Linked DNA regions of Homo sapiens: region 1 is reported to be linked to region 2. The links are microRNA targets in miRTarBase. Many come from high-throughput screens and were not tested one by one. Region 2 holds a microRNA gene; the other region holds the end of a gene's coding sequence.

Region 1 (4,000 bases), not on the chromosome of region 2:
AAGCATTTATTCAAATTCAACAATTAGTCATAAATAACTCTTAGCATATGTAAAAGAAGGCAGCTTCCTTAATCTCATTGTTTGTCTAAAATGAAATTATAATAAACTACATAAGGAATACAGGATCACTGAAACCTGTTCCCTGGAATCAGAACCAGACACACCGTGTTCAGGAGGTGTGATGGGGACAATAAAAGAAGAAAATAAAGAAAAATAAAGGTGTAAGAACCAACATTTAAGCAATATAGGTGTTATTATATGTGGCTGACACTAACTACATAAGTATGTAAGTACGTTAAGTATTTAAGTACATAAGTACATAACTACATGTACATAAGTACATGAAAAACCCACCACAATCCAAAAATGATGCCTATGAATATGTGAATTAAACCAGGTAACAAGATACAAAATCAATATATAAAATCAATTAGATTCTTATTTACCAGCAAGAAAGAAATGTGAAATAAAATTACGGTACAATGACCAGACTAAGAAACAACTATCTGCACTAGAAATGACCCCATAAAGGATTAATTTATAGAATACCTTTTTAAATTCTTCAAATCAACATAAGAACACAAATGACCCAACAGAAAAGCCAGCACTGAAAATGAAGACAAAGACGCAAAGGCCAATAAATATTCACAAAACGTCGCTTCACTAACTTATTTCCAGTTCCAGATGACAGGAGGCCCTCAAGGACCCAGAAGGCAGGACCACAGGGAGGTGACAGCGCCAGCAGCAGCAGGGCAGGCCTCTGCCTTGGCCACAGCTCCTGGCGGGCTGCAGGGGCCGGGAAGCCCGAGCAGCCTGGCGCTCCTGGCCCCTGCACACACTTCCCTCCCTCCACCCCGTTCCTCTCTCTCTCTGTGCCTTGGGCCCCCTGGGATGCGCTCACATCCAGACTCACCAGGCCGGAGACGTTGGCAGAATGGAGAAGTGCTGGCTACAGGTGGATGATGCCCACCTGGCTGCCAATGACTTCTGCACCAAGCGAGGCTGGGTCTCTGGAGCTGCACCAGGGGCTGGACAAGCTGACCCTGGCCGGAGCCAACCTGGAGATGCAGCCTGAGAACCTCAAGGAGGACCTGGTCTACCTGAAGAAGATTCAACAATGACTATCTTTCTTCAGCCCCATCTAATTACGGCCCCTGGCACATACTAAACAGTCACTAAGTAATTCTTAAATAACTTTTATTTCAACATTCAGTTAAAAACATTCCATACTGTAACAAAAATTTCAATCTTTCAAAAGTCCAATACCCTTAGTTTGATTCAAGCTCCATCAAAGATGAATTGGTTAGTTTTTAATCTGGAGTTTACAAGTCATAGTTAATATTTCAAAAAGCCTAACATAGACGATATGTTTGCCCACAAAAGGAATAAAAAGACTAATGAAAATGGTAAATTATTTGCTTTGGGCTGGAATTTTAGTACCTAGGTCTGCCTACATGGTGCCAGTCAGAAGCATGATTTGTGTTGTACATGCCTTTATGTAGCAAAATATAATTCTTTAATAAATGCAGTTTGGTAAACATAATCTTTTAAGACACAGGACATAGGGGAGTAAAAAGAAGGCCTTGGTGATTAAAAAGTTGGAAACCACTGAATTAAATTACCTTCAAATCCCTGTAAGTATCCTGTTTATCCTTATAAACATTAGCTCTCACTGTACAGCATTGTAAAGACAAGCAGAAGAGTTAGACTTTTTTTTTTTTTTGAGATGGAGTTTCGCACTTGTTGCCCAGGCTGGAGTGCAGTGGCATGATCTTGGCTCACCGCAACCTCCACCTCCCAGGTTCAAGTGATTCTCCTGCCCTAGCCTCGCAAGTACCTGGGACTACAGGCGTGCCCCACCATGCCTGGCTAATTTTTGTTATTTTTAGTAGAGACGGGGTTTTAGTATGTTGGCTGGGCATAGTAACTCCTCATGATCAACTCGTGACCTCGTGATCTGCCCACCTTGGCTTCCCAAAGTGCTGGATTACAGGTACGAGCCACCGCACCTGGCCTACACTCATTACTTTCACAGGGTTTTTTCCCACATTTAAACTTGTCACTCGACTAGGAAGTCAAGATTGAAATGGCTCTTTCCATGAATAATTTAGTTTTGGGGTTGTTGCCAAAGTGATTTATAATGATTTTAATAATGATAGACATCCCTTAAAACATTCTCAAGTAATTAGACCCCTGGGGCTGGTGCAGTGGCTCATGCCGGTAATCCCAACCCTTTGGGAGGCTGAGGAGGGAGGAGTGCTTGAGCCCAAGAGTTCAAGTCCAGCCTGGGCAACATAGTGAGACCTCATCTCTTTGTATGTTAAAAAATAAATAATTTAAAAAATTGTATCGTTGGGACCATATTCTAGTGTCAGTTCTGAGACAGAAAAAAAAAAGGTGATTATGTCCAAGAGCTTTTGGCTTTTCCACTTGATTATACTTACGTTTGAAAAATCCAGTAGGTATTTTCTCTGCTTTCCCACCTTCCCATGGTTTTTTTCTAATAAAACTCATTTGTAGTGCAATAAGATGTGGTCTCCATCAGACTTTTCCTAGTTTTACTGCATTCATTAGGTTTCTGCTACCTATTAGAATAGGTCCTGTTTGTAGACTCTTACAGTCTTCAAATTCCTTTCCAATGTGAAGTTTCTGGTGCTTAAGAAAAGCTGTCCACCCACTGAAGGCCTTACCACAGTTGCTACATTCAAAGGGTTTCTCTCTGGTATGAATTCTTTGATGACTGACAAGGTGTGAGTTCTGACTGAAGGCCTTCCAACATTCAGGGCATTCATAGGGTTTCTCTCCAGTATGAACACGATGGTGTCTAATAAGATCTGAGCTGCCCCTAAAAGATTTCCCACATTTGTTGCATACATAAGGTTTTTCTCCACTGTGAATTCTATGATGTCTCAGAAGGTCTGAGCTCTGATTGAAAGTTTTCCCACATTCTTTACATTCATATGGTTTCTCTCCTGTATGAGTTACCTGATGTCCGATGAGGTCTGAGCTGCCCTGGAAAGCCCTACCACACTGATTACACCAATAAGCTTTCTCTTCTTGGTGAATTTTCTGCTCTCCCCTAAGCTCCTCATCCTTGCTGAAGGTTTTCTCACGTTCTTCAAGTTTCTCTCCAGCATGCAGTCTCTGATGTTTGAGGAAAGCTGTGTGCCACATGAAGAGTTTCCCACATTCCTTACATTCATAGGGTTTCTCACCACTATGAATTCTCCGACGTTGAATAAGGAGTGAACGCCGCCTGAAGGCTTTTTCACATTCAGTGCACTGATAGGGCTTCTCTCCAGTGTGGATTTTCTGGTGTGTGACAAGGTGGGACCTCTGGCTAAAGACTTTCCCACATTCACTACATTCATGAGGTTTCTCTCCAGTATGAACACGATGGTGTTTAATAAGATCTGAGCTGCTCCTAAAAGATTCCCCACATTTATTGCATACGTAAGGTTTTTCTCCACTGTGAATTCTATGATGTCTCAGAAGGTCTGAGCTCTGATTGAGTTTTCCCACATTCTTTACATTCATATGGTTTCTCTCTTGTATGAGTTACCTGATGTCTGATGAGATCTGAGCTGCCCTGGAAGGTCCTACTACACTGATTACACCAATAAACTTTCTTTTCCTGGTGAGTTCTCTGCTCTTTTCTAAGCTCCTCATCCTTGCTGAAGGTTTTCTCACATTCTTCAAGTTTCTCTCCAGCATGCAGTCTCTGATGTTTGAGGAAAGCCGTGTGCCACATGAAGAGTTTCCCACATTCCTTACATTCATAGGGTTTCTCACCACTATGAAGTCTCCGATGTTGAATAAGGAGGGAACGCCGCCTGAAGGCATTCCCACATTCACTGCACTGATAGGGTTTCTCTCCAGTATGGATTTTCTGGTGTGTAGCAAGGTGTGACCTCTGGCTGAAGGCTTTCCCACATTCACTACATTCATAGGGTTTCTCTCCAGTATGAATACGATGGTGTTTAATAAGATCTGAGCTACC
Region 2 (4,512 bases):
TTTTCATCCTCACACACTGCCGGGAAGGTAAGCTTGGTTACTTCTGCCATTTTACAGGTGGGGAAACTGAGGCTAAGAGAGGTTAACTTCTGCCGGCAACACTTGGAAATGGTTGGTATGGTTGGAAGCCGGCACCGCTGGGCCCAGGGTCTGGGGCTAAGTGGAATTCAGTGTGGGTCTTTCCTTTCCCATTAGAACCCCTCAAGTGTCAGACCCTCTGCCCCTCCTCGCAGTACTTCCGCCTTGCCTCATGCCTCCCAGGCACTATCTCTGTGAACTTTGAGCTCTGCCCCTATTGCCCAAGAAAGGCTCGCTGATGAGGAGGAAATTGCCCAGGTTTATAGTTTCCTCCCAGCCTCTCTGGCGACACCTGAGCCTGCTGCTTCTCCCCTTCCGCCTCCCGCCACAGTCATACACACAGCCACTCATGCATACTCACATCACACCACACTCCAACCAGCACTCCCCACGCTGCCAGTCACACATAGTTACACACATACAATCACATATATGTTCCCATATAGACACATTCACACTCATACTTTCACACATGCACACGCATGTGCACACACAGTCACTCATTTCTGTGTTGGAGATTGGGTGAGGACATTCAATGGGTGAGGACCAACAGGTGTGAAGATTGCTTTCTAGAAAATGACGCCTGTCTCTCTTTGCCATTCTTCCCAATCCAATGGAGCTACTAGGCTTTTCCCTCATTTCATGTTTAATAAACAAGCCGCTCTTGCGGAACGATGGTTGGATCCCTCATCAACCACCACACACTCCCGACCCCACCCTCCTTCCTGCCCCTGCCAGCAAACCTGACAGGTCCAAGGCCTGGAATTGAGAACCTGTTTTCTTCCCCATCCTGCCCCCTTGTGACGGGAGCCTAGAACTGCTGGCTCTGCGCCCAGAGGTTAACCACATTTCTCAGGAAGGTTCCAGTAGCCAGGCGGGTTGTTAGGAGAGGTCTGTATCCAACTCCCCTCCTCCTGCAGAGGGGCAAACTAACTAAATGAAGATCCACTCTTCCTTCACCCCGATCCTCAGGGCCACCAGAAGAGCTGACTGCTGTTTCACAGGCACACTCCACTGGCACAGGAGATGGGTGGGTGTGCCAACTGGACCAGCATATGGCAGGACCCTTATGATGATCAAGCCTACAGTCATCATACAATCACAGGATTGTTGCCCTATATCCATATTTTCTTGACACCCTAATAGTGCATTTGGCTAAACCTTGGTGAAATAGGCATGACAGCATGTGACTGTGCCGCCTCTGACACTGACCACCCAGGCCTTTCTCTTCACTCCTTCCCTGAGGCCTTGGAGGGTCTGCCTGTGGCCTTTAGTCTGGTGTTTGAGCTCACAGAACTGGGTGTGGTTGACCCTCCCTTTGTCCTCACCCCCTCCACACACACACAGGGATGCTCTTGCAGGCTCCTGGTTTGATGAGGCAGCCCAGGATGTGTCCCCACCTTTCCTCTTTGAGCCCAGGGCCAGTGTATTTCAGGCCGAGTGATTTCACCCAGGGTCTTGTTTCCATTCCATTTTATTTTTAGTCCTCAGGTGCAGTGGGATGAGTCCCTCCTATTCCCCAGGTGATGGCTGGCTGTCATCATTGGTCCTGACTAGTCACCTCTTGCTTCATGTATTCCCCCCTCACTCCATTGTCATTTCCATGCCCCCACCCCACAGGCAGCCATTCTACTATATCCTTTATTTGTATGTGTTCTTGTGCAGTGCTTTGTAGGCATGGATTTTGGTACTGCAAAGTGCTGCATTGTACACATAGTATTGCATAGTGTTGCCTTATTACCATTTCTGTAACAAACTGAATGTGTTACTTTATGTTGGAGCGTGGTGGAGCCTTAAGAATTTATTGAGAATCTCTGCATTAATGATTATGAAAGTGACTGCAAGTTTTCGCTGAGTCTTATTTCCTGAACATAAACTCAGGATCCTGGACCATGGTCATGTGGGAATAGCAAGAGAACTGAAAGTGGAGCCTGTCACATCTCCAGACTCCAGTTTTAGTTCTCTTGCTATTTCCACCACATCTTTCATCACTTCCTCCACTAAAGTCTTGAACTCCTCAAAGCCATCCACGTGGGCTGGAATCAACTTCTTGATGATGGATGAAGCCACTTCCTTGTGGCTGGAACCAACTTCTGTGTTTCCTAAAATGGGGACAGCAATAGTACCTACTCTCTAAAATTTGTTGTGGGCTAGGTGCGGTGGCTCACGCCTGTAATCCCAGCACTTTGGGAGGCCGAGGCAGGCAGATCATGAAATCAGGAGATCGAGACCATCCTAGCTAACATGGTGAGACCCTGTCTCTACTAAAAATACAAAAAATTAGCCGGGTGTGGTGGCGGGCGCCTGTAATCCCAGCTACTCGGGAGGCGGAGGCAGGAGAATCACTTGAACCTGGGAGGTGGAGGCTGCAGTGAGCCAAAATCACGCCACTGCACTCCAGCCTGGGCGACAGAGGGAGACTCCGTCTCAAACAAAAAAGAAAATATTTTTTGTGAAGATCAAATGGGTTAATACAAGTGAAGAGTGCCTGGCACTACTAGTGCTCAGTAAACATTGTTTATGGATGCTTTCTTTTTTTTTTTTATTAGGCCTTATAATAGCCCTATGAGGTAATATAATTAGTTCCATTTCACTGATGAAGAGACCAAGGTCCAGGGAACAAAACAACTTGCCCAGGTTTGCATCATGATACTGCCAGAAGCTAAATCTAGATCTTCAGACCCCAAGACGGCCACAGGACCTCGATCCCCATGTGTTCCCTAGAGGTGTTGTGCAGAACCTTCCTGATGCTGATCTGGATGACGAGCGGTCACCCACAGGCTGCTGGAGATGATTCCTGGTCGGGTGGCCCTCAGTCCTCCTTGATCTTTCTCCCACACTGTGATCTTCACACCCACTGGCCATTCCTGAGAAAGAACCTGCCTTCTCCAGGGCTTTTGTGGGTGCCCATGTTCACCAAGCAGCCTCTAAAGTGATGTGAATCCTAGCGCCAGGCCTGGTAGTAGCACATATGCATGGTAGATGCGTGCTGGAAAAGCAGGAGCCCTAGGAGCCTGCCTTGGGTTCTAGTCCTAGCCATCCATTGCCTCACCCTAGGGTCTAACTTTCTATCTCTAACCTTCAGTTTCCACATCTGCACAATGGGGATAGGAACTTTTCTGTGAGGATCAAGTAGGTTTTAGGAGACTATTCCAATCTTGATCAAATACTAACAGTCGCCTGAACCCTGCAGAACAATCCCTGCTTGTTGTACAGTCTGATGCCACCTCAGATGAACCATTACCCACTGTATGCACTGAACATTTTCCCCTCCCCTCCAGGAAGATCATCCTCTGGATCTGCCCTCCTCACAACGGCCTTATTGCTTTTCTGGAGTCACCGAATCTTAGAATATCGGTGCTGGAAAAGAACTTGAGGACCATCAGTCCCAGTGTGGCAAACTTATCTCCTTATCAAGGACCCCCGCTGCCTAAAGCAGTGGTTGACTCAGTCATTGCTCCCCTCACTGCAGGGTGCAGTGTGAAGAGGGGACAGATCATCCTGTGAGTTACAGGCCACCTTCAGCCCAAATACCCCCTTTCTACAGATAGGCAAACTGAGTAAATGATGATCCCAACTTCCTTCACCTGACCCTCGCCTCAGGGCTACCAGGAGATAGGGACGCCATGTTGGCACAGGAGATGGGTGGGTATGCCACCTTCCCCATGGGCAGGCCCCTATTGCGGTCACATCTCAAGTGACTACTTACAACCATCAAACAATTAGGGTTTACTGGTGGATGTCTTTATCTTTTTGACATTCTGTAGAATTATGCTAACAGATTTTGGAAAACAATTTGCCCAAAATCTACGTGACTTCATCCTTTGATTTTTGTTTGTTTGTTTGAGACAGGGTCTTGCCCTTCACTCAGGCTGGAGTGCAGTGGCGCCATCACAGCTCACTGCAGCCTTGACCTTCCAGGCTCAAGTGATTCTTGTGCCTCAGCCTTCCAAGCGGCTGGGATTACAAGCGTGCACCACCACGCAGCTTTTTTGTTTTTTTGGTTTTTTTTTTGAGATGGAGTCTTGCTCTGTCACCCAGGCTGGAGCGCATTGGCGTGATCTCGGCTCACTGCAACCTCTGCCTCCCGGGTTCAAGCGATTCTCCTGCCTCAGCCTCCCAAGTAGCTGGGACGACAGGTGCGTGCCACCACACCCAGCTAATTTTTGTATTTTTAGTAGAGACGGGGTTTCACCATATTGGTCAGGCTGGTCTTGAACTCCTGACCTCATGATCTGTCCTCCTCAGCCTCCCAAAGTGCTGGGATTACAGGCATGAGCCACCGCACCCAGCCATGCCTGGCTAATTTTTGTATTTTTAGCAGAGACAGGGTTTCGCCATGTTGGCCAGGCTGGTCTCGAATGTCTGGCCTCAAGTGATCTGCCTGCCTCGGCCTCCCAAAGTGCTGGGATTACAGACGTGAGCCACCACACC

Evidence for each region. The annotated mature microRNA hsa-miR-3925-3p reads ACUCCAGUUUUAGUUCUCUUG and lies in region 2 at 2,025-2,045, shown strand. An mRNA with a match to its seed (bases 2 to 7 or 8) in the 3' UTR can be bound and repressed. Matches are read on the target gene's strand: a 7mer-m8 pairs with bases 2 to 8, a 7mer-A1 pairs with bases 2 to 7 and ends in A, and an 8mer does both.
Region 1: miRTarBase lists ZNF594 as a target of hsa-miR-3925-3p. Seed matches in the 3' UTR shown: 8mer at 3,380-3,387, 8mer at 3,296-3,303, 7mer-A1 at 3,128-3,134 and 8mer at 2,801-2,808.

The regions. Positions count from the first base shown.
Region 1 is chr17:5,178,355-5,182,354 of GRCh38, forward strand. ZNF594 (zinc finger protein 594) reads right to left here. Exons shown (of 2, transcript NM_032530.2): 2 at 1,181-4,000. The coding sequence ends at 3,479. Among named protein-coding and RNA genes, the nearest start is that of ZNF594, 12 kb to the right of the region's middle.
Region 2 is chr6:36,619,979-36,624,490 of GRCh38, reverse strand. It overlaps MIR3925 (microRNA 3925), which reads left to right and starts at 1,979; the gene lies at 1,979-2,055.